Homo sapiens: one gene and its partners. The protein of the gene in region 1 interacts with the protein of each later gene in a pairwise test. Each region holds a gene or a part of one and is shown on either strand. Other genes may lie near its edges.

Region 1 (7,023 bases):
CTAAAGCCGCCAGGCTGGCTTCCACCCTGTATACTTGCTCCTTGCATTCCTGTTCCCTGCATGACTGGGACCTATGTGTACAAAGAGAAAAGAGAGATTTTTGGCATTTTTAATGTATAGGTAACCTGAATTCAGTAATAATGTGACAAATTATGATCTCTATACAGATATGAGTAAAAAAAGCAAATCAATGACTCTGAAGATCATTTTCTACTGTTAGCAATAGCAGAAGGCAGGGTTTAGCCAGAGATCAACTAGCAAGTTCGACATACTTGCTTACAACACCTCCAGCATCATCAACAAATATTACACAGCACAACTGGATACCACTGAATTAATCAAAATTCAGCCAAATAAGCACAGTGAAAACTGAGAACACCCTGGAAACTAGTGCTCACTGGAAATACAAATGAAAGCCAACAGAGTCTAGAGAAAATGTATGCTGGTCCACTGGGGAAGTTACATTCACAGGGCCACCCCCTACCCTAGTTCAATCAGATACAGGTAGTTTGTCCCAAAGGGCCCTATCCCACAAGTGAGGCAGAGATGTTCATAATGTCAGAGAGGCAGAAAGGCAATGGGAAGGCCTCCAGGAAAAAGACTGCTATTAGCCCAACATTTGCTGTTTATAGCTTTCCATAGAGAACATATGGCAGATGCTTTCTGCTAAATGTAGACCAAAAAATATGACTGACTGGAGTGAAAAAACCAAGTACAGTGATATCATACTTACTGGTACTTAAGATCTTCAATGAGTTCAACCCTTTGCAAGACTACCAGAACCCAAGGAAAAGACCTCTTGAGTACCAAATCTAACTGTTAGAATGTCCCTATACAAGCATTATGTTCACACTCAGGCATTCACCCAGAGCTTAGGTACTCTCTTAATAAACACATATTGTTAACAAACTTGTTACCTGCTTACCCAGCAGATTAGAAGCAGCAAAACATAAAAGAAATACGGATAAATAACTGTTAGGAGCAGATACCACTTCAGTAATATGAAGAGCCAGGTGACGGCCTGACAGTGAAGGAGACCAGAAACCAAACAGGAGATAACTATGTTTTATATTACGGTATAGACAATAATGAATCTATTCAATGATGACCTTGAGTAGTCAAAACTGATTAAACTATTTTTTTGTATCCTGTTCAAGAAAGGAAATATCAAATACTTTTTATAATTTTTTATTAAAAAAGTTAAAAAACTTGGTAGAATAGTTCTATTATCTGGAACATTCACTTACATGCATTAACTCATTTCCCAAAGACAATGGATAGATGAAACATTAGTACAGATTTGTATAGACTGCTAGAATATTATCACTGTTCTGTTCATTATCAATACTGAAACCAGAGACAAGTTTCCAGAGACCAGTCTGAACATTAACGAGCTATTATGGGTCTGAAACACCTATGAGTATAATCTTTTTTTTTAAAATTTTTTATTTCCATAGGTTATTGGGGAACAGGTGGTGTTTGGTCACATGAGTTTATAGCAGCACAATTCGGAATTGAGTATAATCTTTTTGAAGCTTTAATCTGAGGTACTGTAATTGTGATCTAACCACTCAATAACGGCCATTTTAAGTTTCTAGGTGTGCTTGTTCTAGGCAGACAAGTACTAGCAAAAGTGACCATACATCTTGGTTTCCCTAAGATAGTCCCAGTTTATGTTTTTGCCTCCAAGTAAAGTAACAGCACTTTCTTTCATGTTCTCCTTTAGATGATAAATTATATAATCACCCTAGTAATAATAAGCCTTTTGCCCACAAGTTTCTAACTAAGTGGACTAGAGTTAATTTTAAAATCTAATTTAAAAGTATGAATTAAGGACATGTTGTTAAGTTAAAAAAAAAAAAGGTATAGAACAGTGAAAGGGGAAAAATAATATATATTCATGTTTTCCAGAAAGTAACATGAAAAATCTAATAAAAGTGATTATCTACAGGACCTAGAGGGCCACAGGGGAGACAAGCATAGGAGAGGAAGCAAGGTTCCTTTTAGTTTAAGATGTGGTCTCACTATCTTGTGTAGGCGGGCCTCCAACTCCTGGGCTCTACTGATCCTCCTGCCTTAGCCTCCAGAGTAGCTGGGACTACAGGATTCTACCCTGGCTTTTTTTTTTTTTTTAAAGATGGGAGTCTAATATGCTGCCCAGGCTGGAGTGCAGTGGCTAGTCACAGGTGCGATCAGAATGCACCACAGCCTCAAGTTCCTAGACTTAAATGGTCTTCCTGCCCCAGCCTCCAGAGTGCTGGCACTACAGGTGCATGTCACCATGCCTGGCTTGAAGTTCTTAATACATATATCTTTTATAGATGAACGAATATATATATTTATAAGTTAATATATTAATTTAAAATTTTTTTAAAGGTTTGAAGATAAAATTTGTATTTTCTCTTGCCTCAGATCTAATTGGCTTTATCGAATCTACTAATAAAAATGGTATAAACCTAGTATTAGGGTAATAAGTTCAAGTACCAGCAGAGAGAAAGGAGCAAAATATTATCCAGAAATGTTCTTCCAACCCTTACTTGCAATGTCTTGCATCATAGAACTACCAGTAAAATTATGTAAGCGCATTATGTAGTTATTTGTTTGTTATCTGTCTTCCCAACTAGAATGTAAGCCCATGGGGGAAGGGGCTTTGTTCTGTTCACACTGCAGTATCCCCCGTACCTAGATCTATGTTTGGTACATAGTAGGTGCTCAATAAATATTTGCTGAGTGACAGAATGAATGCATAAAAACCATTTCTGTTACTAGGCTACTGACCATAGAGAGTACAATAAAAATCAAGGCCCACAAACACTTCAAACACAATAGAGAACAGTTTTATTCTACACATAGCAAAAAAACCCTCTATTTGTATTTCATATTACAGAGGAGGGGGTAGACACATATCCACACATATACACACACACAAATGTGCAGATAACAGGACAGAGTAGTAAAGTGGAAAAAGTAGTGGCTTCTGTTCCTTGCTCTGCCACTTTTTAGTCATGTGAATTTGGTCAAGTCACCTGAATTCTTGGGCCTTAATTTCCAAATCTATAAACTGAGGGAATTAGATGATTGATGTATTCCATTCCAGCTCTGCCATTATCTTTCTCTCTCTCATACACACAGACATGGGGAGGAAGACACATAAAAAAAGAAGAGAGAAGTACGCAGAGGAAGGGGGGAAAAGGAAGGTGGAGCAGTTAGAGGGAAATGAAGGTGCCAGCATATAAAAACTCACGGAAGAAACACACATACCACCTCTCCACAACCAAGTCGAGATGAAGAGGGAGCATGTACACACAGGCAGAGAGATCCAAATAAAAGAGAGGAGACAAGACTTCGGTTCCACACCTTTTAAGGTGATTATTAATAAACTGCCTTTCACATTCCACTGTTCACTTAGGCTATGTGATGACAATAAATTAACACAGGTCTCTCTAAACCTAAGATTATCTAAATGGCCACTAACAGCTCTTCATATACTCTAACCCAGTGGTTCCCAGTCAGGGTTCACATTAGAATCATTTGGGGGAAGTTTTTCAAACTATCCATGCTCAGATCCTACTAATAAGAGATTCTGAGTTATACCTCGGATGAGATCCGGGCAAGTATATCTTGGAAAAAACCGTGTACATGATGTTGGTTTGTACCCCAATCAAGACTACTTTCTAACCCCTAAATTTTCAGGGGCTCTGCTCCAAATGAATAGCTATTTATTGTGGGATAAGGTTGTTTTTTTTTGAACTACAATCCTGATAGCCAGAAAATCACCACCCTAAGGGACAGAGAAGCTACAGGGAGATCCAAGTCTTCCCTTTCTAACAAGCTAAGAAACAGCCCAAGTCAGAAGGCAGTAATAATTAGGCTCAATAATCAATTCCTGAATAGATCAAGATTTCACTTGGATGCCAGAAGTCAGTGTTACACATACCTGTCTGGATCCCTGGGGGACAACCGCCCCCATGTTAATTGGACTGGGACCCTGCATTCCACTAGGTATAGGTCCTCTGGGGCCAGGCACTGGGCCTCTGGTATCCATGCCTCTGGCCTCCATCCCTCGGACTTCCATTGCACGGGCCTCCATCGCTCGGGCCTCCATTGCACGAGCTTCCATCGCACGGGCCTCCATTGCACGGGCCTCTAATCCTCTGGCATCTAACCCTCTTGCCTCCATGGCTCGGGCCTCCATCCCTCGTGCATCTATTCCTCGGGGATCCCTTCCACCTATAAAGAAAAATGTAACAAAACCATTATGTAGCTACTTGCATGTACTGCAAGAATGATGAACAATCCAAGAAAGATAGAAATCTCTTCTAGTCACATTTGTCCCCTCAGCTATTAACATATGAGACTATTGTCTCCTCCCCAGTTTCTCAGATTTGTGGATAAACCTTAAAGATGCTTGCAAACCTACTGTTCCAGCATTCTTTATCCCAGATTAGAGCCTAAGACAGTTGAGTTCATTATGGCATTTGCAATGTGATCTCCCCTTACCTCTGCCATCCAAGGGTGGACCCCTCTGATCTAGCATGGGTCCTCTTGGTTCTGCCATTAGAGGTCTGGGCTCGGGTAATGGCCCTCCCCTCAGTTCATGTGGGGGTGGTCCTCGGCTCTCATGGCCAGGGACATGGTGCATGGGTGGACCCTGATGAGGTGGTCCCAAGTAACCTCTGGAGATGGAGAAAAACGTTGTATTTTAAAATAGAACAAAACAACAACAAAGTACCAACCAGATCAGTAAGTAAACATCCAACAAAGAGCTGATGTAGTCTATGAATACTAACAAGAAAATAACACCAAATAGATGGAAGAAAAGCTACAGAGATATAAATCCATGTATTCTAGAATTTCGTTATTTGGTTCATAATTAGGGAGGAATCAACGAATATTCATTATATGTATGAGTTTGCAGAACAATGCATAAGAACATGAGCTCTGGATTCAGACTGTATGGGTTCAAATCTAGGCTCTATCACTTATTAGCTGTGTGATATTGGACACATTATTTAACTTTTCCACACATCAGTTTCACGTGTAAAATGGGACTAATAATGGTATCCATCTCACAGGATCTTGTGGATTTAATAAGATGATCTAAGTAAAGTACTCAGAGCAGAGTCAGAGGCATGATCCCCATTAATGTCAATTATTATTACTATCATTATTTTATTTATTTATTTACTTTTGAAATGGAGTTTCACTCTTGTTGCCCAGGCTGGAGTGCAGTGGCATGACCTCGGCTCACTGCAACCTCCACCTCCTGGGTTCAAGCGATTCTCCTGCCTCAGCCTCCCCAGTAGCTGTAATTATAGGCGCCCGCCACCACGCCCGGCTAATTTTTCTATTTTTAGTAGAGATGGGATTTCACCATGTAGGCCAGGCAGGTCTCGAACTCCTGACCTCAAGTGATCCACCCACCTTGGCCTCCCAAAGTACTGGGATTATAGGCGTCAGCCACTGCACCCGGCCTATTATTGCTATTATTAATATTTCCACTACTATAAATTTCCCTGTTCAAGTATGTATACTAAAATTTCCAATTTCTAAAAATATAATAGCTCAAAATGACATACTCAAGTACATAGTTCTGCCTTAGGAGAAGTGCTTACCCTTGGACAGTGGCCATGAATATTGATCTACCTTTTGAAGTAGGCAAACAGGTACAACTGGTACAGAAAGATTTTGTTCTCAGGGAAGAAGGGACAATTCTGATTTCTTCAACTGTTTCCTTCTATGTTAGTGCTTACCTAGGCTCTACCTCTCCAGTTACAGAAAGTAAAGTGCCTCCCCGTGGATCATTCGGAGCATCTCCTAACAAGCCTCGAGGGGTTGGGACATTCGCAGGCAAGGATCCCCGCTGCATAGCTGCTCTGGGGTCTTGCATCGGCACTGACAGGGAAACAAACGGGGAGTTACTGCTGTGAAAGACACATAAGCAAACAAGAAATGACTCTATATACCACTGACAACATAATTCAGACACCTTAGAGTGGGTGAAACCTCACCACAGCAGAATCCTCTTGCAGCTCAAGAACAGAAGCAGGGTGTAGGCAGAATCTGTGCCATGTCAGAGGTATGGATGGAATTATATAAAGAGCAAACTGGGGAGCAACCTGCCAAGGACTAGCACTGCGACCTGGAGAAACTTATGCTCCTGGTTTTCCTTCTAATCAATCTTAGTTCAAGGACCAGAGTCACAAAACAGAGGTAGAGTCTTGGCATATGTGAACACTGCCATGGCTCTGCAAGAACCCGCTGTCTCCTTACAGACTGCTATTCCATCCAAGCCTCCTGACACCAGTAGGGAGGGAGTACAGCCTCGGACAGATGCCCATATCATCCATGTTCTCTGCCCTGTGTGAAGAGGTCAATCTTAGGCTTGTGGCCTCAACAGGAAAAAATTAAAAAAACAAAAACCCAAAAACACTACCCTTTTGGGTTCTGAACGCGAGGATGACTGCCACGCAGCTCTTTTCCTCTCAACGTCCCACCCTGAACACCACAAGCAAAAGGAAACCCACAGATACAATGGGTACCTTGAACTCGCTCAATTGATGCAGGCCCGGCGGGTCCCACGGGCGAGTGCTGTAGGGTTCCTAGGTAAGCAGTAAGTTCAAAAGGAGAAAGAGCAGACACTTAAAATAGCTTGCATACACACGCAGAAACACACACACATGGAGATTGAGATTTACATATATAAGTTAAAAAGCCAAGAGTTCATCGGCTTGCTCCAGGCTACAAAATCTCCCTAAACTACACTAGCTCCTTTGGGTCTCTGAAATAGTTCCATTTTGACCAGATAGCTTTTGAAAGGGAATCCCATGGGGGCACTGGTTTGATCTAGGTGGGAATAACCTGACATTTTCGATTTTCACCTCTGCTACTAGTTTTCCGTTAGGTCTCCTTATGAAATCATTAGGAAAAAAATATATAAAAAGGATAGTTTTGAATCTTCTAGTTATGCAAAGAACATAAATGTAGTTTCAGAAGCAAAACATAAAAGAAACTGCACTGAAT
Region 2 (7,949 bases), on another chromosome or scaffold:
CAACCTACTTTGAATCTGTGTAGTCATACTTAAAAGTGCAAAGGCCAAACTGAAATAGCAAAAAGTCCATGGAATGCTGGAAAAGGGAAATAAAACATCTGTCACAAAAGTGCTGCATATTCCATGTGAGCATAGCATTCTCAAACAGGTGGGCTTTCTGAATTACTCAATGAGACTTCAGCAGAATACTTCCAATTAGAACAGATTACACATATGAATCAGAAGCATTATTAATTTGTATACATTTCATAATACTTTTCCCATTTAAGGACCTATTTATCCATCATCCAAAGAATCATATTAGGTCTATTTCCAAATGATTAAAATAACTGCCTCATATTTCCTATGAATCAAATTAACACTGAAAATGCTAAACTTTCCCCAAAATATTTTCCAGCAAACAATTATTTTTGCTGTTTTAAATATCATTAAAATAACACTTTAAGGCCAGGTGTGGTGGCTCACACCTGTAATCCCAGCACTTTGGGAGGCTAAAGCAGGAGGATCATTTGACGCCAGAAGTTCGAGACCAGCCTGGTCAACAAAGTGAGACCGATCTCTACAAAAGAATATGTAAAAATTAAAAAAAATAATAATAATTGGCTGGGCACAGTGGCTTGCGCCTGTAGTCCCAACTACTTGGGAGGCTGTGGCAGGAGAATCAGTTGAGCCAGGAGTTCAAGGCTCCACAGAGCAGTGATCACGCCACTGCACCCCAGCCTGGGTGACAGAGCGAGACCTTGTCTCTAAAACAAGACAAAACAAAAAAAAAAATCACTTCATGGCTAGGTTTGAGGAGAAAATACTGCACTTACAAAACCTTAATGCACAAGTTTAGTAACAATATTTATCATTTAACATAAGGAAGACTAACATGAGAAAGAAAAAGATTTCCTAGCACATCCACTTGCCTTTTTAAGCTTCTGATACCTCTCTTCTGGAGTGTCAAAACCATTTGTTAATGCAGAGACTGAAGGTCCATCACTGATTCCTAGATTTTAAGAAATAAAAATTTTTAGCTTACTAATAAATACTAACGTAAAAATGCCAGTCAATCATTCAGTGCCTCTATAATGTCGTATCACGAATTAAGGTTACTTGGAAGCACTCCCTAACTTACTTTTTTAAAATAAGCATTAATTTCAGTGGCCACCAGGTTAAACCCTCTAATAATGAACTTAGAGATGCGAATGTTTCAACATGAGAATAGGCAGTTCCAGCGTCTAAAACATGACTTAAAACACAGTAATCATGTAAGAAAACAATCTCTATGCTTGAATAAGTTTTGCTGCTTTAAAAGATTCCTGTATAAACAGACATCAATAAATCCCTAAGTATATTATTGCCAGAGTTCCAGTCTTGGTCAAGAGTTTGGAGTGGTTAATATCTATGCAAAGAATGTATCTTCAAGATTAAGAGAAAATTATTTCTCTAAGTGAAAACTCTTAGCTTCCTAGGGAAGTGATTCCAACTAGACACTACCTAAAGCCAAGGATACTATTTACCCCTGCATGGATTCCTTCATGATTCAAACATGGAAAATCAGACAGCAAAAATGGATATCCATATCAAAGGGAGTGAACCGTTCATATTGACATCAGCAATTTAAAAACTAGTCTTTGCTCCCCCTAAAAAAGGGGAAAAAAAATTTGCAACTTTAAGTGTCAGTGAAGTATTTCCTGTATACACACCTGTTGAGGCAGGCAATGAACACGTCCACTAATGCATAAAGAAATATCTCATTTATCTGCAAAAACCTGACCCTAGCCGGTCACAAAAGGGCAAATATTGTAAGATTCCACTTATATGAGATGTTAAGGGCAGTCAAATTCAGAGACAAATGGCGGTTGCTAAAGGCTGGGCGAAAGGAGAAATGGGGAGTTTAATGTGTAAAGAGTTTCAGACTGTGAAGATGAAGAAGTCCTAGAGATGGATGGTGATGTTTGCACAGCAATGTGAATGTACTTAATGCCACTTAACTGTAAAGCCACTTAAAATGGCAAATTTCATGTTATACCTATTTTACAATCAAGAAAAAAAACAGTCTGACCCTAATCCTCAAGCTCTCTGCAATGTACACGCCGCACTGTTTTAAGCAGCATCAAAACCATCATCTCTATCTGAGATCCTGAGTCCAATCACAAACCTACGGCGTATCTTCATTTCTTTCGTGCTTTTGAAACGTTTAAAGGGTAACACTGAGACCTGTGAAACCCGCCCAAGGCTACTAACAGCAAGAGGCCACCACCAAGCATAAGAAGTTGGGGGCTGGGGGATTGAAGGAGCCTTGGCTATGCACTGCAAAGTGCTAGCCTGAGCTTGCAAGGGAGGGATACCTGAAAACTCCCCATCGATGGCGAAGAAGTCGGCCTCCTCTATGGCCTGGTACACTTTGTGAAGATTACTCTTAAAATCTGCGGAGAAACCGAAAAGAGGCTCAGAACCAGTGGCCTGAATTCCTGCTAAGGGGAGAGGGAAGGAGGGCCGAGGAGCTCCCGAGGCTGAGAGCCGGAAGGGGAAAAGTCCCGGAGGTGTGCACCGGGGCGAGGGGAATCAAGTCCTCGAGGGGTGCATGGGTCAGGGGGGACAAGCCCCGGGGGGTGCCCGGCCCGGAGAAGGACAAGGCCCCGGATGGTGCCGGGGTTGGAGGAGTAAGTACAAGGCTCCTAGGGTGCACGGTCCGCAGCCGGAAAAGACCCCAAGAGGCGCACCGGCTTAAGGAGGGAAAAGCCCTGAGGGGCTGCCTCAGCCCCAGGCCCAGCCAAACACGCCGGCCATGGTCTCGGCCTAGCAGGCCAGGGGCAGCCGGGTGTGGGGAGGCGGGGAGGTGTACGGCGGACACGCACTGCTCCTGATTATCTCCATTCTGCAGAGTGGCCGGAACCTTGGCCCCACCCGGGCCCGCGCCCGCCTCAGCGGTTCTACTCGCCGAATTCCGCGGCGACTGCGGCAGTAGCTGAGGCAGCCGCAGCGGTGACGCCGGCCGCGACTTCCGGAAACAGCGCGCGCCTGCTGCGCTTGCGTCAGCGCCTGCGCGGCGGCGGGGGCGGGGCCAAGGCTGGGCTCCTTTCCCTCCTTATAGGGACAGGGGAGGGGCGTGGCTATCGAAGTCCCCAAGGCGTGGCCTAATTTGTGCGGGCTTTCACTTCAGTAGAAAAAATGTGCATGTCTCGACATCCAGTCGACCAGGAAATACTGACTGGGTTTCTGTGATATGCTAGCCACTCTTACAGGGGTGGAGATACAGTGATGAACAGGAAGACGTGCTCCCTGCCCCATTGTAGCTTAAACTTGGGGTAAGGGGAAATTCAGGCAGGAGTGAAACTTGCCATTTGGTAACACATGAAAATCGCTATTAAGAAAAAGAGCGGGGCGATGTAATAGAGAATAATGGGATCCGGGTGCGGTGGCTCACGCCTGTAAGCCTAACACTTTGGGAACCCGAGGCGGGAGGATCCGTTGAACTGAAGAGTTCGAGACCAGCCTGGACAGCATAGTGAGACCTGTCTCTTAAAAAAATAAAATTAGGCCGGACCCGGTGGCTTATGCCTGTAATCCCAGCACTTTGGAAGGCCGAGGCGGGCGGATCACGAGATCAGGAGTTCGAGACCAGCCTGGCCAACATAGTGAAACCCTGTCTCTACTAAAAATATAAAAATTGGCTGGGCTTGGTGACTCATGCCTGTAATCCTAGCGATTTGGGAGGCAGAAGCGGGCGGATTACCTGAGGTCAGAAGTTCAAGAGCAGCCTGGCCAACATGGTGAAACCCTGTCTCTATTAAAAATACAAAAAATTAGCCGGGTGCAGTGGTGCGCGCCTGTAATCCCAGCTATTCGGGAAGCTGAGGCAGGAGAATCTCTTGAACCTGGGAGGCGGAGGTTGCTGTGAACCGAGATCACGCCACTGCACTCCAGCCTGGGTGACAGAACGAGACTTGTTTTCAAAAAAAAAATTAAATTAAATTAAAAGAATAATAGGGGTTGTTACTTAGGTGATCACGGAAAGCAAAGCTGAGACCCTTAGCTACTGCATTAGCCTCTGGGAATACTATGTCGAGTGCAACATATGAGGCCCGGCCCTAATGGAATTGTATGTTGGTTTGGGGTTGCTGTTCTCCAATGCCTAGCACTGGGCTGACACGTAGTAGACACTCAATAAGCATGGGTTGAATGAATACATTCAGGTTGGTCTTTCACAAAAGCCAACTATGAAAAGTTGGTTAGTGCCGGATGCGATGGCTCACGCCTGTGATCCTGGCACTTTGGGAGGCCGAGGCAGGCGGATTGCTTGAGGCCAGGAGCTCGAGACCAGCCTGGGCAACACGGTGAAACCCCATCTCTACTAAAATACAAAGAATTAGCCTGGCGTGGTGGCGCACCCCTGTAGTCCCAGCTACTCGGGAGGCTGAGGCAGGAGAACTGCTTGAACCCGGGAGGCGGAGGTTGCAGTGAGCCAAGATTGTGCCACTGCACTCCAACCTGGGCGACAGAGCGAGACTCCGTCTCCAAAACAAACAAACGAACAAAAGGAAAGTTGATTAGAAGACCTATTTTCAAAATCTATCTCAGCCACTTATTAGTTCTGGAATGCATTAAACCTTCCTAAACCTCAATTTCCTGGGATTGTATTGAGGCTCAGTGGTGCTAATGAATGTGAACTGGGAAGCAGCGTATTAATAAATCTGTATAAATAACTGTTTAATGGGGGCCTGGCGCCATGACTCACACCTGTAATCCCAGCGTTTTCGGGGGCTGAGGCAGGAGAATCGCCTGAACCCAGGAGTTCCAGACCAGCCTGGGGAAAAGAGCGAGACCCTGTCTCCATAAAAATAAAATGAAATTTTAAAATGAGCCAGGCGTGGTTGTGCACGCCCGTAGTCCCAACTATTCACGAGGCTGAGGTGGGATAATCGCTTGAACCCGGGAGGCGGAGGTTGCAGTGAGCCAAGATCGTGCCACTGTACGCCAGCCTGGCGGGTGAGAGTGAGACTCTGTCTCAAAAACAAACAACAACAACAAAACAAAACCAAATAATCAGCATAAGTTCTAGACGCTGTGACCTAGACGCTGGGAAGGGGCGAAACGTGGTGATAAGAAAACCATTTCAAGCTGTACGAGGTGGCTCACGCCTGTAATCGCAGCACTTTGTAAGGCTGAGGCAGGAGGATCCCTTGACGCCATATGTTCAAGATCAGCCTGGAAAACGCAGCGAGACCCCATCTCTACGAAAAAAAAAATATTTTAATAGAAATAAAAGTCATTTAATTCCGATTCTTAACACCGTAAATTGAACGTATAGTCCTGTGATTTTCTACATAAAATGTGAAGGCAAAAAATAACTGTAGAGAGTACGGTGCGGCCTTGTAATATTTTAATTTCTAGGCAAAGCTTGTATCCTCCGGATACAAGAACAGCCGCCCAGGAGGAGCGGAAACTGACACACACCCGTCACCCCTTGGGCTGTGACTGCCGAGCCCGGGTACTCGGTCTCTGGGTGAAGAGGAAGGGGCGGGACCGGCGGTATTACGCATGCGCCCACTTCCTCCGGCTGGGAGTGGCCGCTCTAGGCAGCGGGGAGGTCGCGGGGTTGAGGGGGGTTGTGAAAGGAGAGCGGCCTCTCCTCTATGGTCACGGGGCCGGGGCACGCTTCCCCCACTCTGTCTTGTTACTTCCGGTAGCGAAGCCTCTCCCTCTTCCTCTGCTCCCGCGGGGTCTGTGCTGAGAATAATGGCCCGGTTGGCCCGGGACGAGTGGAATGGTAAGCCGCGACACGGCTGGGGGGTGCTGAGGGGGCGACTCGGGCTTGATATCGGGGAGTGATGTGGAAGACGGAGCGGGAATCCCTTCTGCGGAGCCTCCCCAGCCGGGTCGTAGGAGGCGCGCGGGGCCTCTCCTCACGCAGGCCCGAGTCCTGAGCATCCCCACTCCTGGCCGCGGGGTTCGGACCCCAGCTTGGCCAACTGCGCTATCCCTTCCCGAGAGCCCCACGTCCGCACAGCCGGTCGCTGGGCCTCGCCTGCGTCCTTTCGGGGGTCAGGGTCAGAGCCACTCCCTCCTGGGGCTCCCTAGGGCGGGAAGGAGGAGGGGTCGCTTCCAAACACCTTGGAGGGGAACCACGGGGCGCCTGCCCGCCAGGAGCGCTTGCCACACCCTGCAACAGCCGGACCAGAATTGATGAGGCTTCTGATAGTCGCCACGCTGAGTTTACGGTCTAATTGTCGAGGCACGTTCCTGGCCTAAGGCGGAGCGATTGTGCCCATTCTTTAAAGTAGGGTGACCGAAGCGCAGAAGGGAGAAAGTGAAATCCCAAAGTCACACTGGGGCCAGGCAAGAACTCGGCTCTTCTGATTCTGCGACTTGCGGCTCGGAAATAACTTAGGCAAAAGAGAATTTTCTTTTTTTTCTTTTTAGAGACGGAGTCTTGCCCTGCCGCCCAGGCTGGAGTGCGGTGGAGCAATCTCGGCTCACTGCAACCTCCGCCTCCCAGGTTCAAGCGATTCTCTTGCCTCAGCCTTCTGAGTAGCTGGGATTACGGGCCCGCGTAACCACGCCCGGCTGATTTTTGTATTTTTAGTAGAGACGGGGTTTCACCATGTTGGTCAGACTGTTCTCGAACTCCTGGCCTCAAGTGACCCACTCGCCTCGGCCTCCCAAAGTGGGGAGATTACAGGCGTGAGCCACCGCGCCCGGCCGAGAATTGTCTTTTATTAAAAAAGCCGGCGGGAGGGGGCGACAGATGAGAGTCAGGTTGTGTCTAAACGGGGACCTTTGGAGGGGCAGGAGGCAGCATCCCAGCTTCCGCGGAAAACAGAGTGAGAGCCTAGACGCTGTTAAGCCCTCAACTGTCGCCATTGGGTCCTCCCCGCCGAAGCCCATTGGTCGGTCCTTTGCAAGGGGGGTGGTCTTGATGTCATGCTCCAAATCGCCAATAGGAAAGAGCTTTACTCTCTTCCCAGGACACACCCCCGAGCCGGCAGGGACTGCACGTGCTGATGGGGTTGTTTTGTTTGTTCTTGTCGCTGCTGTTTTCTCAACATCCAGCCTGGGTGTATCCTGACAGGTGTGCTCTGCATTTCCCTATATCCATAAACTTGATGGAGACATTGTATTTCTCCAGGGCAGTTCTTTTTGTTTGCTTTTTGGTTCCAGCGTTTGGCAGTGCCACTAAGTAGGTAGCCATCACTCAATAAATGCTGCTATTGATAATTCTGTTAATAATGCCGATCAGCCCCACACAGCAAACTTTGAGTACCTGTAGATAGTTTGTCATCTAAACCTCACAGCAGGGCGGGGCTCCGCAGCTCACGCCTGTAATCCCAGCAGTTTGGGAGGCAGAAGTGGGAGTATCCCTTGAGCCCAGGAGACCAGACCAACCTAGGCAACATAGGGAGACGCTGTCTCTTAAAAAAATTTTTTTAAAGTAAACCTCCCAACAGCCCTTCGAAGTTGACATGATTATCCTAGACGGATCAGTGGGAAATAGGAAGTTTAGGAAGAATAAATCGTGACGCGATTTGGAACCCAGATCAGTGTCACTCCTAAGACCATACTGTTTCAACTCTACCAGCCTAAGGAAATTATAATCCAGGAGATGAGAAAACGTACACAAATAAAAGTTATGCTAATGCACAGAGACAAGAAAGATTAATTTGGGTGTTGAGGAGTTAGTCATTAAAGACTTTCAAGTGACAGTTGATTTGGGTCTTTCCAGTTGGATACTTTTGACCCAGCGATGTTGTGAAGTTGTGTTACAGGTGAAGGGAACAATGTGAGGATAAGGAAAAATGTCCAAGGCCAGGCACGGTGGCTCACTCCTGTAATCCCTGCACTTTGGGATGCCAAGGCGGGCAGATTGCTTGAGCTCAGGTGTTCAAGATCAGCTTGGGATACATGGTGAAACCCTGTCTCTACTAAAAATACAAAAATTAGCTGGGCATGGTGGTGGACGC
Region 3 (7,023 bases), on another chromosome or scaffold:
GGGGCCAACGGGGAAGATATAAAAACAGGAACAGATATTTAATGAAACGTCTTTTTTAACCCACAGAATTCCAAGAATGAAGAATTATTCCCAGTCATGCAAGGGTGAAGAGAGTCTTCTCTGCTGGTGGGAGGATCAACTGTTTCCGTATTTTTTGGAAAGCAGTTTGACACAATGTATGAAAAGTAAAAATCTGTCTCATTAATCCCTTCCCAGAACGTATCCTAAATTTAAGAACTGGAAACATGCGTGCACACTGATTGTAGTGGTGAAAAATGGGAAAACACCTAAACGTTCCTCAGTGCAGAAGAGGTTAAATAAATCGTACATTCAAAAGAACATCATGCAGCCCTTCAAATCGGGCTCATCTCTGCACTGGCATAAGAAAGGTGTATAATATAGTACTGTCTGCAGAGCATGCCAGAGCCATTTTGTCTGGAAGGATTTCCATCAATATGCTGGGCCATCTCATGGTGGGAGTACAGGCAAATCTCACTTTGATCATTATAAAAACCATAAGGTAAAAGAAGGATATTTTTGGTGGGGTGGGAGAGCCCATTGAGTCCTTCCCACTCCATTTACATGTTTCAGAAAGCCTTCTCACTTGCTGTTTCTACTCTCTCCATCTTCATTTTTTTTTTTCCTTAGCACGTTTTCTCTACTACTGGAGGAAAATATTAACAGACATCATACATGCTCACAATAAACTAAAGATACACAATTAGGATACTACTATAGACCGTTCCCCCAGTGACTCTCACTTGCCAACAGTTTATCCTCCTGGTTCTAGATGCCCAGATAACCACACCATAAATTCTCCCAAGTGAGGCACATTTATGTTGCTTCCAGATCTTCTCCACAATAACCCAGCAACACTAGAATAAACTTGTACACTTCCATGCTGGTGCTTTTCATTCTAACCAGGTTTGGTTTCAAAGTGATAGTGCCCAATTAACTGCAGAACATTTGCAAGTCATGCTTCTTCCACCTGTGTTAAAACAATGACCTGGTCCTCCTGCCTGCCCATCAGCACTGGATGTTGTCACTGTTGGGTATTTTTGCTGTGGATAAAAGACAGAAGAATCTGTGCTGCTGCCTCCCACGGCATTTCCCTGCCCACCGGCGAGTGAGTGCTCTGGTAAGCACACTGGAACACCCGCCCACAGTTTATAATTTTCTAACTATTTTCTGATCTTGGTTTTCATTTTTCACATTTAAATTTTTTTTTTTTTTTTTTAAGACAGTCTCGCTCTGTCGCCCAGGCTGGAGTGCAGGGGCTCTCAGTTCACTGCAACCTCCGCCTCCCAGGTTTAGGCAATTCTCATGCCTCAGCCTCCTGAGTAGCTAGGACTACGGGCACGCACCACCACACCCAGCTACTTTTTTGTATTTTTAGTAGATACAGGGTTTTCCTATGTTGCCCAGACTGGTCTTGAGCTCCTGAGCTCAGGACCTCCACCCATCTCGGCTTCCCAAAGTGCTGTGATTACAGGCGTGAGCCACCACGCCCAGCCAAATTTTCTAGAATTTGATACAGATTGAGTATCCCTTATTCAAAGTGCTTATGACCAGAAGTCTTTCAGATTTTGATTTGCATTATACTTACCAGTTGAGCATCCCTACTCCAAAAACCCAAAATCTGAAATGCTTCAATGAGCATTTACTTTGTCATGTCTGTGCTGAAAAAGTCAGATTTTACTGGGCACAGTGTCTCGTGCCTGTAGTCTCAGCTACTCTCATGAGGCTGATGCAGGAGGATTGCTCAAGTTCAGGAGTTCAAGGCTATAGTGTGCAATGATTTCACTTGCGACCAGCCACTGCACTCCATCCTGCACAACATGGCAAGACTCAATTCTTTTTTCTTAAAGAAAAAGGTTTTGGATTTCGGAGCATTTCGGATTTTCAGATGACGGATGAACTCAATCTGTATATGTTATGAGGTAGAGGGTCCAAAATTTTCTTTTCCAGAAATGTACAAAACACACCATTTATTTCCCTACCAAATTGGCATATAGGTCTACCATCCCTTATCTATAAACTGGAAATCCAAAAGGCTCTAGAAAACAAGTCTTCCCCCAAAATTCATTTGGTGGCTAAATGTGAACTGACATTACATTTTTCATTTATATGTAAGTCATGTGAAGAATTATTTGTGACTCAACTACAAGGCGCTTTCCCCAGATCCTGTTGGAGAGGTTAGTGCTAATACCATATTGTCTTTCTTTTTATTTTATTTTAGAGATAGGAGTCTCACTCTGTTGCCCAGGCTGCACTGCCATTGTGTGATCACGGCTCACTGCAGCCTCAAACTCCTGGGCTCAAGTGATCTTCCCATGCTAGCCTCTTGAGTAGCTGGGACTATAGGCACTCACCACCATGCTTGGCTAATTTTTTATTTTTTGTAGAGACGAGATCTCACTATGGTCAGGAACTCCTGGGCTCAAGCAATCCCACCTAAGCCTCCCAAAGTGCTGGGATTGCAGGTGTGAGCCACTGCCCCCAGCCTTGCATATTGGTTTTCTGAAGCTGAAAAATTAATTCTGAGGCTTCTGGCCCTAAGGTTTCAGATAAAATATCTGTACTAACTTTAACAAATTACTAAGTCTGAAATATACTGAGATCTTTTGCTAGACTCTCTATTCTGGTTCCACTGTTTCATTACTGTGCTAATTATCACTTTTTTTGTTTTTTAATTGCAGCAGCTTTGTAGTAAGTTTTAGTATTTCTGAAATCAATCTCTCAGCTATTGTTAGACTGAATTTTACAATGTAAAACTTTAAAATAATTTCATTTCATTCAGTCCTACTCCCCGACTGATATTTTTGACTAGAAATGTGCTGTCTATATTAATTTGGAGAGAACTGGTTTTTGTTTTGTTTCACTATTAAATTGCCTATTTAAGAACACAGAACATTCCTCCATTCATTAAGGTCTATTTCTTTTTTTTTTTTTTTTTTTTTTTGAGATGGAGTCTTGCTCTGTTGCTCAGGCTGAAATGCAGTGGCATGATCTCAGCTCACTGCAACCTCCACCTCCAAGGTTCAAGCAATTCTCTGCTTCAGCCTCCCAAGTAGCTGAGATTATAGGCACCCACCACCCCACCCGGCTAATTTTTTGTATTTTTAGTAGAGACAGGGTTTCACCATCTTGGCCAGGCTGGTCTTGAACTCCTGACCTAGTGATTCACCTGCCTCCGCCTCCCAAAGTGCTGGGATTATAGGCGTGAGCCACCGTGCCCGGCTAAGGTCTTATTTCATATCCTTGGAGTATTTGCAGTTCTTAAAAGATCTCAAGCCTTTCTTCTTCCCTCCCTGTTTTTTTTTTTTTTGAGACGGAGTTTTGCTCTTGTTGCCCAGGCTGGAGTGCAATGGCGCGATCTTGGCTCACTGCAACCTCCGCCTCCCAGGTTCAAGCGATTCTCCTGCCTCAGCCCCCTGAGTAGCTGAGATTACAGGCGCCCACCACCACGCCCAGCTAATTTTTTGTATTTTAGTAGAGACAGGGTTTCATTATGTTGGCCAGGCTGGTCTCAAACTCCTGACCTCAGGCAATCCACCCGCCTCAGCCTCCCCAAAGTGCTGGGATTACAGGCATGAGCCACCATGCCTGGCCCTCAAGTCTTTCTTCTTAAATCTGTATTCTTAGCTATTTCATACATTGTGTGGTTATTTTAAGTAGTTTTTTTTCCATTTAAATTTCTAACTGGTTAATACTAGAATAGAGAAACACTACGACTTTTTGTACGCTATTTTGAATCCCATCCCCTTACCAAATTCTATTAATTCTAAGAACATTTTGCTGGGATCATTCAGCTTTTCTAAGAGCATAATCACATTATTTGCACATAAAGAGAGTTTGCATTATACCAATAATATTGCTAGATTTTTTGTTTTTGTTTTTGAGACGGAGTCTCGCTTTGTCGCCCAGGCTGGAGTGCAGTGGCGCGATATCAGCTCACTGCGAGCTCCGCCTCCCAGGTTCATGCCATTCTCTTTTTTTTTTTTTTTGAGACGGAGTCTCGCTCTGTTGCCCAGGCTGGAGTGCAGTGGCGGGATCTCGGCTCACTGCAAGCTCCGCCTCCCGAGTTCACGCCATTCTCCTGCCTCAGCCTCCCAAGTAGCTGGGACTACAGGCGCCCACCACCACGCCCGGCTAATTTTTTGTGTTTTTAGTAGAGACGGGGTTTCACCGTTTTAGCCGGGATGGTCTCGATCTCCTGACCTCGTGATCCGCCCGCCTCGGCCTCCCAAAGTGCTGGGACTACAGGCGTGAGCCACCGCGCCCGGCCTTTCATGCCATTCTCTTGCCTCAGCCTCCCGAGTAGCTGGGACTACAGGCGCCCGCCACCACGTCTGGCTAATTTTTTGTATTTTTAGTAGAGATGGGGTTTCACCGTGTTAGCCAGGATGGTCTCGATCTCCTGACCTCGTGATCCACCCACCTCGGCCTCCCAAAGTGCTGGGATTACAGGCATGAGCCACCGCGCCCGGCAACTGTTGCTAGATTTCTTAGGGAACCATCCCTCCATTCCAGAAACAAACCTTACTTATAATGTATCATACATAGGGATCACTACTAGATTGATAGTTACTAATATTTTATTTAGCACTTCATTTTATTTATTTTTTTGAGACAGAGTCTTGCTCTGTTGCCCCGGCTGGAATGCAGTGGCACGATCACAGCTCATTGCAGCCTCAACCTCCTGGGCTCAGGTGATCCTCCCACCTCAGCCTCCCAAGTAGCTGGGACCACAGGCCCCAGTACCTGGCTAATTTTTTTATTTTTAATTTTATAGACACAGTGTCTCACTATATTGCCCAGGCTGGTCTTGAACTCCTGGGCTCAAATGATCCTCCCACCTCAGTCTCCCCAAGTGCTGGGATTACAGGTATAAGCCACTATATCCAGCCAACTTTCTTTCTTTTTTTTCTTTTTTTTTTTTTGAGGAGTCTCACTCTGTTGCCCAGGCTGGAGTGCAGTGGCGCGATCTCGGCTCACTGCAACCTCCGCCTCCTGGGTTCACACCATTCTCCTGCCTCAGCCTCTCGAGTAGCTGGGACTACAGGCGCCCGTCACTACGCCCGGCTAATTTTTTGTATTTTTAGTAGAGATGGGGTTTCACCGTGTTAGCCAGGATGGTCTTGATCTCCTGACCTCGTGATCCGCCTGCCTCGGCCTCCCAAAGTGCTGGGATTACAGGCATGAGCCACCGCGCCCGGCCAATCCAGCCCACTTTCATATCTTTAATAATAGTAAACTAATCTACAGTTTCATTTTGGTATCATCTTTATCAGAATTTTGGAATTAAGGTTTAAGAAGCTTCCTAAATATTGAGAGGACAGACTCTAGCATAGCAGTCTGAGGCGTTCCCTGGAACACTCCCTAGTGAAACTGATGAAAAGTATTAAAAAACAACCATTTAAAGTCTCTGAAAATGTTCCTAAGGACATACAGCCCTATGAGAAAGATTTAATGAGGAAAAGCTACTAAAACTCAGTTCCATGAAGAGTTGTGATGTCTGAAACACAACCTATTGCATCCCTGCCTCCCCCAGCTTAGTGTGATGGAAACTCCACTCCAGACAGTACAGCCAAGAAGACAGGTCTGCCCGCATCTACCCAGATCATCTCAGTTAAGGGGTATGATATCTTCCCAGGAGGAACAGAATGTCAGCATCTATTTTTCTGAGTTGGAGTTTCACTCTTGGTTGCCCAGGCTGGAGTGCAATGGCGTGATATCGGCTCACTGCAACCTCTACTTCCCGGGTTCAAACAATTCTCCTGCCTCAGCCTTCCGAGTAGCTGGGATTACAAGTGCCCGCCACCAAGCCCGGCTAATTTTTGTATTTTTAGTAAAGATGGGGTTTCACGATGTTGTCCAGGCTGGTCTTGAACTCCTGACCTCAGGTGATCTGCCCACCTTGGCCTCCCAAAGTGCTGGGATTACAGGCGTGAGCCACTGTACCCAGCCGGATGTCAGTATCTCTCATCCCGCCCCCAGCTACCTGCTGATGAGGCTAAGTTCTAGACAAGCATAGCTGAGAGAGAACGGTTCCTATCTTCTACCCAGCCACACGCACGTGGAATGGAGGCTTGACCCTGGGCATGGCACACTAAGAATATAAGGGCTCACATACCCATGGCTTGTTCATAAAGCAGAGGTCCCATGCCAGGAAAGGCAAACCAAGACCGGAGGCTACAGCCTACTGTACCTCCTCCCATGTCTCTCCTAAAGTGGCAGAGTCACTCAGAGAGAGGTACTCCATTGTCTCCATCCCCAGAGCCTTGGCTCAGAGATTCTGCCCACAGTGAGAGCACGGCCTTAAATCAGTAAACTCCCAATCTCAAAGGAACTGACTGACTTCACTGGCAAGAGTGTTGGGAAGTGCAAGACTAGGGCCTCTCTCAAAAACAATGGAGACTAGGGAGGAAAAAAATTAAAAGGACATTGATAGCTTTTTTTTTTCTTTCTGAATATTTATTGGAGTTAAACACTGATAGCTTTGTCCTTTTTTTTTTCCCCCACCACACAGCCATAAAAAAGAAGGACCGGTAGATTTGACAGTGATATTAGCTAACCCATAGGCTAACTAGGTTACCAAAGAGGACAAGGACCAGTGAAATAGCTAAGAACAGACTCCCTGGGTTCAGAATAAATCTCAAACAACCACCTCAAAAACCATCCCTCTTGGGCCTGGCATAGTGGCTGACGCCTGTAATCCCAGCACCTTGTGAGGCTGAGGTGGGTGGCTCATAAGATCAAGAGTTCGAGACCAGCCTGGCCAACATGGTGAAACCCCGTCTCTACTAACAATACAAAAATTAGCCGGGCGTGGTAGCACATGCCTGTAATCCCAGCTACTCGGGAGGCTGAGGCAGGAGAATTGCTTGAACCTGAGAGGTGGAGGTTGCAGCAAGCCAAGATCGCGCCACTGCATTCCAGCCTGGGCAACAGAGCAAGACTCTTGTCTGGGAGAGGGGGCGGGGAGGGGAGGGGAAAAAAATCCCTATAAAGGAGCCCAAA

What was found. The genes of interacting proteins can lie anywhere in the genome.
Region 2: the proteins of CSTF2 (region 1) and PARN interact in binary tests that used the Homo sapiens proteins (3 or more experiments, as listed by UniProt).
Region 3: the proteins of CSTF2 (region 1) and AKAP8L interact in binary tests that used the Homo sapiens proteins (3 or more experiments, as listed by UniProt).

What each region holds. Positions count from the first base shown.
Region 1 is NC_000023.11:100,830,387-100,837,409, reverse strand, and holds part of CSTF2 (cleavage stimulation factor subunit 2), read right to left. Parts: intron 6,603-7,023; coding exon of another isoform or gene 6,543-6,602; intron 6,361-6,542; coding exon of another isoform or gene 6,188-6,360; exon of another isoform or gene 5,902-6,187; intron 5,896-5,901; coding exon 5,754-5,895; intron 4,677-5,753; coding exon 4,501-4,676; intron 4,231-4,500; coding exon 3,938-4,230; intron 72-3,937; coding exon 1-71. UniProt on the Homo sapiens protein: One of the multiple factors required for polyadenylation and 3'-end cleavage of mammalian pre-mRNAs. This subunit is directly involved in the binding to pre-mRNAs.
Region 2 is NC_000016.10:14,627,261-14,635,209, forward strand, and holds the start of PARN (poly(A)-specific ribonuclease PARN), read right to left. Parts: upstream 3,001-7,949; 5' UTR 2,866-3,000; coding exon 2,847-2,865; intron 2,415-2,846; coding exon 2,337-2,414; intron 992-2,336; coding exon 912-991; intron 77-911; coding exon 9-76; intron 1-8. UniProt on the Homo sapiens protein: 3'-exoribonuclease that has a preference for poly(A) tails of mRNAs, thereby efficiently degrading poly(A) tails.
Region 3 is NC_000019.10:15,380,989-15,388,011, forward strand, and holds part of AKAP8L (A-kinase anchor protein 8-like), read right to left. Parts: intron 1-7,023. UniProt on the Homo sapiens protein: Could play a role in constitutive transport element (CTE)-mediated gene expression by association with DHX9. Increases CTE-dependent nuclear unspliced mRNA export.